2 separate regions of the Homo sapiens genome follow, and region 1 is linked to region 2. Evidence: fine-mapped QTL for protein levels in blood plasma. Region 2 holds a variant in brackets. A gene starts in the other region. All regions are shown on their forward strands.

What was found. PIP is the posterior inclusion probability: the model's chance that the variant is causal. Protein levels are from antibody-based Olink assays in UK Biobank. Linkage for the fine-mapping came from a reference panel and not from the study's own genotypes, which makes the PIPs less certain.
Region 1: KIF22 starts here. The variant in region 2 is fine-mapped to the plasma level of the KIF22 protein (UK Biobank, PIP above 0.99).

Annotation. Positions count from the first base shown.
Region 1 is chr16:29,788,402-29,792,914 of GRCh38, forward strand. It overlaps KIF22 (kinesin family member 22), which reads left to right and starts at 2,350. Exons shown (of 14, transcript NM_007317.3): 1 at 2,350-2,428. The coding sequence starts at 2,359. RefSeq lists an enhancer at 1,761-2,160.
Region 2 is chr14:23,375,110-23,379,109 of GRCh38, forward strand. It overlaps IL25 (interleukin 25), which reads left to right. Exons shown (of 3, transcript NM_172314.2): 3 at 516-1,294. The coding sequence ends at 771. CMTM5 (CKLF like MARVEL transmembrane domain containing 5) reads left to right here and starts at 1,937. Exons shown (of 6, transcript NM_001288746.2): 1 at 1,937-2,268; 2 at 3,240-3,392; 3 at 3,560-3,760; 4 at 3,922-4,000. The coding sequence starts at 2,143. The variant C/T (reference allele first, on the strand shown) is at 2,164.

The sequences.
Region 1 (4,513 bases), not on the chromosome of region 2:
TTAAGAGATGGAGGTAGGCCAGGCACAGTGGCTCACGCCTGTAATCCCAGCACTTTGGGAGGCCGAGGCGGGTGGATCACGAGGTCAGGATATCAAGACCATCCTGGCTAACACGGTGAAACCCCGTCTCTACTAAAAATACAAAAAATTAGCCGGGCGTGGTGGCAGGTGCCTGTAGTCCCAGCTACTCGGGAGGCTGAGGCAGAAGAGTGGCGTGAACCCGGGAGGTGGAGCTTGCAGTGAGCCGAGATGGCGCCACTGCACTCCGGCCTGGGCCACAGAGCGAGACTCCGTCTCAAAAAAAAAAAGAGATGGAGGTCTAGGCAGGGCTTGGTAGCTCACGTCTGTAATCCCAGCACTTTGGGAGGCCGAGGCGGATGGATCACCTGAGGTCATGAGTTCAAGACCAGCCTGACCAACATGGAGAAACCCCGTCTCTACTAAAAACACAAAATCAGCCATGCACGGTGGTGCATGCCTGTAATCCCAGCTACTCGGGAGGCTGAGGCAGGAGAATTGCTTGAACCCAGGAGGCGGAGGTTACGGTGAGCTGAGATTGCGCCACTGCACTCCAGCCTGAGCAACAGAGAGAGACTATGTCTCAAAAAAAAAAAGTGCACACCTCTCTGGTTTTTAGTATGTTTATTACGTTACGCAGCCATCATCACTACTTCATTCCAAAATATTTAATATTTCCATCACCCCCAAAAGAAACTCGTTATATCTATTGCTGTAGTGCCAGCTCCTCAGCCCCTCACCATCCCCTGGCAACCACTACTTAGATGTCCTTTTTATGTCTATGGGTTTTTTACTGTAATTTTTAAATTCATTAATGTCAACTTTAATTTAGTTTCACTTCACACACAGTATATACGGCCAGGCCTGGTGGTTCACACCTGTAATCCCAGCACTTTGGGAGGCCAAGGCGGGTGGATCACTTGAGGTCAGGAGTTTGAGACCAGCCTGGCCAACATGGTGAAACCCTGTCTCCATAAAAATACAAAAATTAGCTGAGCGTGGTGGTGCACACCTGTAATCCCAGCTACTCGGGAGGCTGAGGCAGGAGAATCACTTGAACCCAAGAGGCAGAGGTTGGAGTGAACCGAGATTGAGCCACTGCACTCTAGCCTGGGAGATGGAAGTGAAACCCCGTCTCAAAAACAAAAAAACAAAAACCCTCATATACACAAAACATCTTTGGAGGCCTCATTTTTAAAAACTGTAGTGGGATCCCAAGGCAAAACGTTTCAGAAACACTGATCTAAGATTTGTGTTTTTTGTTTTGAGACGGAGTCTCACTCTGGCGCCGTGGCTGGAGTGCGGTGGCACCATCTCGGCTCATTGCAACCTACACCTCCCGGGTTCAAGCGATTCTCCTGCCTCAGCCTCCCGAGTAGCTAGGACTACAGGCGTGCCACCATCCCCGGCTAATTTTTGTGTTTTTAGTAGAGACGGGGTTTCGCCATGTTGGCCAGGCTGGTCTCGAGCTCCTCACCTCAGGTGAGCCTCCCGCCTCAGCCTCCCAAAGTGCTGGGATTACAGGACTGAGCCACCGCGCCCGGCCCGTGTTTTGTTTTGTTGTTCAACAGGGTGGAACATAATGTCTAAACCTGGGCCCTACCTACCTGGTGCTCAAAAGTGGAATGACCGTCCCTAGCCAACCCTTCAGAAAGGACAGAGAGCTACTCAACGGACTGCTGTACTCTTAAGGACTGGGAACCGGAACCGTGGGTGAGTGGGACTGAATCACAGACTAAGCGTTTTCCACGCTTCGCCGACGTGCTGAGTGCCAAGTTATAAAGACAGGAACATCCAAGCTGCTCTCCTGGGCTGACACGGACGCGAGGGGACCTACAGTGGCCTTGGGCCCAGCAGGCAGCGACTGCAACGTGACTGCCCAGAGTCCAGCCCCTGGGGCCCAGATCTACAGAACCGACCAGACGTGATAGCCCTTTGGCTGGGGCTGCAGTCCCACGATCCACACAACGACCCTGGCTCCGCAGACGCGCCAACCACCCACGGAGGCAAGAAACTGCAGAAAGTAAAGGGAAAGGGAGCCCAGTGCCGGGCGGCGCTGAGCAGCTCCCCCAGCGGCCACCGTCGCCAACATCCCTGCGTAGGGGTTTGTATCGCAGCGCGCTTCCAGACATCAACGGCTGCGCGGCCCACGCGCGCGCATGCGTCCTGACCAGGGGAACCTTTTCTTGGGGACCCGGAGGCGAGCGCTGGAAGGCGGGATAGTGGCGACCCACACGCAGCAGCTTCCGGCGGCGCGTAGTCTTGATTGGTGGAACCTGGGAGAGGGGGCGGGGCACCGGGGAATTCGAATGGGAGAGGCGGGCCCAAGGAGGGAGTGGAATGGCCGCGGGCGGCTCGACGCAGCAGAGGCGACGCGAGATGGCGGCAGCTTCAGCGGCGGCGATCTCAGGTACTTGAGCCCGGCCTGGGCAAGGCGGGTACCGACGTCTGGAGTTTAGTGGGAGTTATGTGTCGGAGTGTGGTCCAGGCTCTGCGGGTTGTCGCGGAGAGGCGGCCATGGCGCAGGGGCGGGGAGAGGGGGACGGTGAGAGTGTGGGGTCGCGAGCCGGTCGCCCCGCCTGGCTCCTGCCTTCTCCCTGTTTCCTGCTCTCCCCTTGGGTCAGTAGACTCGGGTCTCCGGTCCAGGCTCTTGGCTTGAACCCCGCGCACTTTTTCTTTGTGAGCTTCGGTTTCTTCGTCTGTGAAACGGGGGTCATGGCCTCATCCCTGGAGATCACCTGAATAAGCAAGAGAAGAGTGGCGGACGCTCTAGCCACGAGGACGAGAAGAAGGGAGCCGGAGGCGTGTATTGGGAAGGGTTCTGTGTGGGACATGGTGTTTGGGTGCAGAGACATCCCTGAGAGATGCAAGAGGACGGGCTGAGGAACAGACCCGGCTGCTGCTGGGTTTGAGTTGGCAGCGTAAGATGCTCTGCGATTACAGGAAAACGAAATAAAAGACTAAAATTTCCTTTCACTCTAGCATGGAAGTGAATGCTATTTTAGGGTTGGAAAGGCTGTTAGGACACCCAAAATCTTGTATGTGAGTATTTGTTTACATGTGCCTCTCTAACCCGGAGACTTAATCCTCGTTAGTGATGATGGTGAGCGCCATAGTAATTCACTGGAGCCCTCGTTAGCCTCGTGGGGAAACAGACATTTAGGAGAATGCCTAACACATGTAGAGCTCTTGCTATGTGCCAGGCACAGTTGTAGGCATTTTATGGTGGTGAACCATTTATTGTCCACACAATGCTATCAGGTTGTTACTATTACTGTCTTTGTTTTACACAGGAAACTGAGGTTAGTTTGTTCAGAGTTAACACAACTAGTAAATATTGGGGCTTGAATTCGCTCTCAAGGAGTCTGAGTGTAGAACCTCTGCTCTTAACCATTATGCCCAAGTACATGTTATCCCTGCTGGCTGAGCACAGTCTCCCCTTACCCTTCGAAGATGCACTGTGTCCGGTGCATGGTAGATATGAAAATGCCTGAATGAATAATGTCCCTTCCTCGAGGAATTTACAGTCTGTTTCAATAGAGTGTCACATACGTAGATGTAATACGAAACACAATGAGAGATGTGTATAAACTGAGGGTGTGGAATCTGAAGTAAGCCCTTGAGTATTCTGGGAGGACTTCATTAAGGGAGTGAATGATACTTGAGATGGGTTTCAAAGGTTGGATAGGAGTTTGCCAGGCCTTGACTAAGAAGACAAGAACAGCAAGTGTTTTCTTATTTATGATGTAAGATGCTCTCTTAGCTCAATTTCCTCATCAATAAAAGGGAGAAGAGTGAATGAAATTTAGGAATTGTGAAAGAAGGGAAAATTAATAATTGCTAGCCTGGTCCAAGCTCAAGGTTGCTTTTATCATGAAAGGGCTAGACTCTTGTGCAGTAAATAATTGTTTACATGTGGCCCTCCCCTCTTCCCTCCTACCCTGGACTGTGAGCCCTGGGGCAGGAATGGCCGTGAGCCATTTTCATGATGGAAATGAACAAGCCAGTGATTAGTAGTTTATTCACTAAATCTTAATTTTTTTCAGCAAATACTTCTTGAGGGCCTACTCTGCGCCAGGTGTTGGGGTTAGAAAGGTGAGCAGGATAAAACTTGTTCTCACAGTTGGCAGTCAGGTGGAGAAAGTGACAAACACGCAATAGTGGGGTGTGACAAATGCTTATGGAGGGGCTAACATGAGCTGTGGTTGCACCTGATAAAGCCTTAGTGTCTACCAGGAAAGGGTTTTTGGTTTTGTTTTTTAAGAGGAGTTAAAATGTGTTTACCTTAGTCACTCCAGGGTGGGGTGGGGAGCAATGCAGATATTCTAGGGAGAGAGATTAACGTGGACAAAAATCCAAAGGTGCAAGAGAACTTGGAGTTTTGTAGGAAGTGAAGGAAATTCATCATGACTGGTAACTTACACTGCAAGGAAGGAAACAGAGGGAATGACTAGAGGGCAGGGAGACACCTTGCTACCACCAGCAAGGAAGGCTG
Region 2 (4,000 bases):
TCTCTACTAAAAATATGAAAATTAGCTGGGTATGGTGGCGGGCATCAGGAGAATCGCTCGAACCCAGGAGGTAGAGGTTGCAGTTGAGCCAAGATCGTGCCACTGCACTCCAGCTTGGGTACTCCGTCTCAAAAAAACAAAAACAAAAAATCAAAAAACAAACAAAAACACCTAAAGTGTAATCATTACAATAAGAAACCTCATGCTGAGTCAGATAGAAGCAGTGCTGGTCAATGGAGGCTAAGGCAGGAGCCTGCTCACCCTCCCCTGCCTCCCTCACGGTCCCAGGACCAGTTGGAAAGCACTCTGTCACCTGCTACCCTCATTTACAGTGGGGAAAATTTAATAAAGGAGGGAGGTGACTTGTTCAAAGTTACACAGCAAGTGGGTTCAGAACTGAGACAAGAGGCCAAGGCCCCAGACGGACCATTTCCTTCTTCTGGCACTCCCATGCCACCCCACCCTCTCTGTTTCCGGCCCATCTTTCCAAGGCCTGACAAGTGCCGCCCCCACAGGTTGGACAGAGACTTGAACCGGCTCCCCCAGGACCTGTACCACGCCCGTTGCCTGTGCCCGCACTGCGTCAGCCTACAGACAGGCTCCCACATGGACCCCCGGGGCAACTCGGAGCTGCTCTACCACAACCAGACTGTCTTCTACCGGCGGCCATGCCATGGCGAGAAGGGCACCCACAAGGGCTACTGCCTGGAGCGCAGGCTGTACCGTGTTTCCTTAGCTTGTGTGTGTGTGCGGCCCCGTGTGATGGGCTAGCCGGACCTGCTGGAGGCTGGTCCCTTTTTGGGAAACCTGGAGCCAGGTGTACAACCACTTGCCATGAAGGGCCAGGATGCCCAGATGCTTGGCCCCTGTGAAGTGCTGTCTGGAGCAGCAGGATCCCGGGACAGGATGGGGGGCTTTGGGGAAAGCCTGCACTTCTGCACATTTTGAAAAGAGCAGCTGCTGCTTAGGGCCGCCGGAAGCTGGTGTCCTGTCATTTTCTCTCAGGAAAGGTTTTCAAAGTTCTGCCCATTTCTGGAGGCCACCACTCCTGTCTCTTCCTCTTTTCCCATCCCCTGCTACCCTGGCCCAGCACAGGCACTTTCTAGATATTTCCCCCTTGCTGGAGAAGAAAGAGCCCCTGGTTTTATTTGTTTGTTTACTCATCACTCAGTGAGCATCTACTTTGGGTGCATTCTAGTGTAGTTACTAGTCTTTTGACATGGATGATTCTGAGGAGGAAGCTGTTATTGAATGTATAGAGATTTATCCAAATAAATATCTTTATTTAAAAATGGCCTAATCTGTATTTGGCATCCGTGGTGCCTGAACATCTCGCGGTCTCCCAGCCTGTCCCTTCTCCTTTCCACCATTGGCCCTCACCTCTGTCCACCCTGCCAGCTCTCTCCGCCCTCCAGAGTTTCCGCTGCACCCTCCCGTCCTCTCCCATCTCTGTCTCCCTGGCCCATCCCAAACACCAGGGTGGGGGCTAGGCCGCGCTCCCGGCATGCTGGAGAGACAGAGGCCCATTGAGGCATTGCAGCAGGCACAGAGCGCCCCCTTGTCCCCCAACAATCCGCCTTTGTCCTCCAGTCCTGGCTGCTGCAGCTTGGTCCTGGGGGTGCTGCCTGGGCTGGGCTCCAGCTCACACCCTCCCTAAAAGGAAATGGGAGAAAGGACCGGCCAAACAAGAGGGTTAAGGTTAGAGAAGGGGGACACAAATGTCTTCAGGCTTAGGTCCCTGGGGGCTCCCAGTCCTGCCCCTGTTCCTCTACTCACATCCCAGCTCCTCCCAGTTTCTTTTCGGACCTCCTCCTCTCCCCTTCCTTCTCTATTCCAGGCTGGGTTGGGCTCTAAGCAAGGGGAGGGATTAGAGCCTCCTTCCTCTCTGCCCCTCCCCATGGGTCTCTAGGGGGCTGGTGCAGGCAGCAGCAGAGGCACTCTGGGCAGCTGGGTGAGGGCCCATCTGGGCAAGGCCCCCAGCGCCTGCCTTCTCTCCCGGGGCCCTGTGGGCAAGCCTCCTGCTTCACTTTCAGGTTTCTCGAAGTGCCTTCTTGCTCCTGTCTGTTTCCCCATCCTGCCAGATTTCTGTTTCTCTTGCTGGGCTTTTGGCAGTAGGGGGCTGTGTTGGTGGGCCCTACGAAGATGCTCAGTGCTCGAGATCGC[C/T]GGGACCGGCACCCTGAGGAGGGGGTAGTTGCAGAGCTCCAGGGCTTCGCGGTGGACAAGGCCTTCCTCACCTCCCACAAGGGCATCCTGCTGGAAACCGAGCTGGTAACAGCTGCCTCCCAACCTGGTGCCTCCATCTCCCTGACCCCCGGCTCCTGGCCAGCCTTATGCCAGCCCCCAGCTCACCCTTCAGTAGCCTCCTTCCCCAAGCCCTCTGGACACCTCTCCTGCCCGCAGCTGCCCCTTCTTCGTCTCCTACTCTGCCTTCTTGCTGCCTCTCCACCCGGAGACATTTACAGCAGGTTTCAGTTGCAGCAGGAAGGACTGCAGTTAGACAGGGTGACTTTTTGGGACATTGAGGAAGCTTGAGACATAGGGATGGGACAGGGGCAATGACAGCCTCTAACATGGCCACTTCTCAGCACGTCCAAGAAGTCTAACTATCAAAAAGGGCAGACTTCCTGCAACTGCACTTTATCTGTGGTCTGCTGCCCAGAAACATCTCTTCTCAGGAAAGGATCTTCCCCTGGTTACTTAGCAAGACCACAGTGTAGAGTTAAGGCCTCTGCACGTATGCCACCCTAGGTCATCAGAGCTAAAGGGGCTCCCAGAAACCACTGGGCAGCATCTGCCTTCTCTCTTGGCATGGAATCAAAGGCTCTGGTCCTTGTCAGGGGGCTTTCAGGCATCTGGGGGTGGGGAAAGCATTATGAGGCAGGGGGCTCCTCTTGGTCCCTGTGGAGTCGGGTCTCTGTGGGCACAACTCCAGGGGCTGGCATTCACACTGTACCTATGAATTACTGTGGGATAGTGCTCCTGGGAGCCATATGGCTTGGCCAGACTGCTGGGGTTGCTGGGTGAGCAGAGTGGGAGGCCGGAGACTGCCCTTGACCGGCAAATGCCCTGCAACGGTGGCTCCTGACACCAGGGGATAGGGAGATGTGCCAGAGTCCTTCCTCCCCTCCAAGGACAGGTAGTAGGTGCCAGCCTAGGGGAGCTTCCAAGGAGGGGAAGGCAAAGCCCTGGCCCCTGCCTGTGTCCCCTTCTTGGCATGTTCCACATGCTCGGTCCTGCAGGCCCTGACCCTCATCATCTTCATCTGCTTCACGGCCTCCATCTCTGCCTACATGGCCGCGGCGCTACTGGAGTTCTTCATCACACTTGCCTTCCTCTTCCTCTATGCCACCCAGTACTACCAGCGCTTCGACCGAATTAACTGGCCCTGTCTGGTGAGGAACCCTGACCCCTAGCCCAGTTTGGGGCCCTTCCCTCTCCTCTAAATGATGCATTTTCCTTTCCTCCCCGAGCTTCTTTCCATTTCCACACCACAGCTGGGCTTTGTCCCATGCTATGCCCTGCACTCAAAGGTGTGCTTTGACTCACACTGATTTCACAGCTGCAGGGCCACGGGCAATCAGGAGGACCACATCCGCTAGATCTACTCTCCCACTCAGCAAAGGTCCAGCCCCAGCCCTGGCCTGGCTTGACCCCCCCGGGCTGGCATACTCCAGCCGCTGTCCCCTGGGTTCCAGCCCCAGCGCCTGGCTTCTGGTCCTGGTTGCTCTGGTTCATCTGCTTCCACTCCCTGGGTAGCAGTGTGAGCGCTCTGTCTCTTGAATGTGCTTCATATTGTGTGAGGGGTATCCTATGGAGGGGTTCAGAATCCCTCAGGGTCGGGCTGCTGGCTAGCCTGGAAAACTTCAGGGTAACGCCCCCTGCCTTCTGAGGTCCTGTTAACCCTGCACCCCTGGCCCCCAGGACTTCCTGCGCTGTGTCAGTGCCATCATCATCTTCCTGGTGGTCTCCTTTGCAGCTGTGACCTCCCGGGACGGAGCTG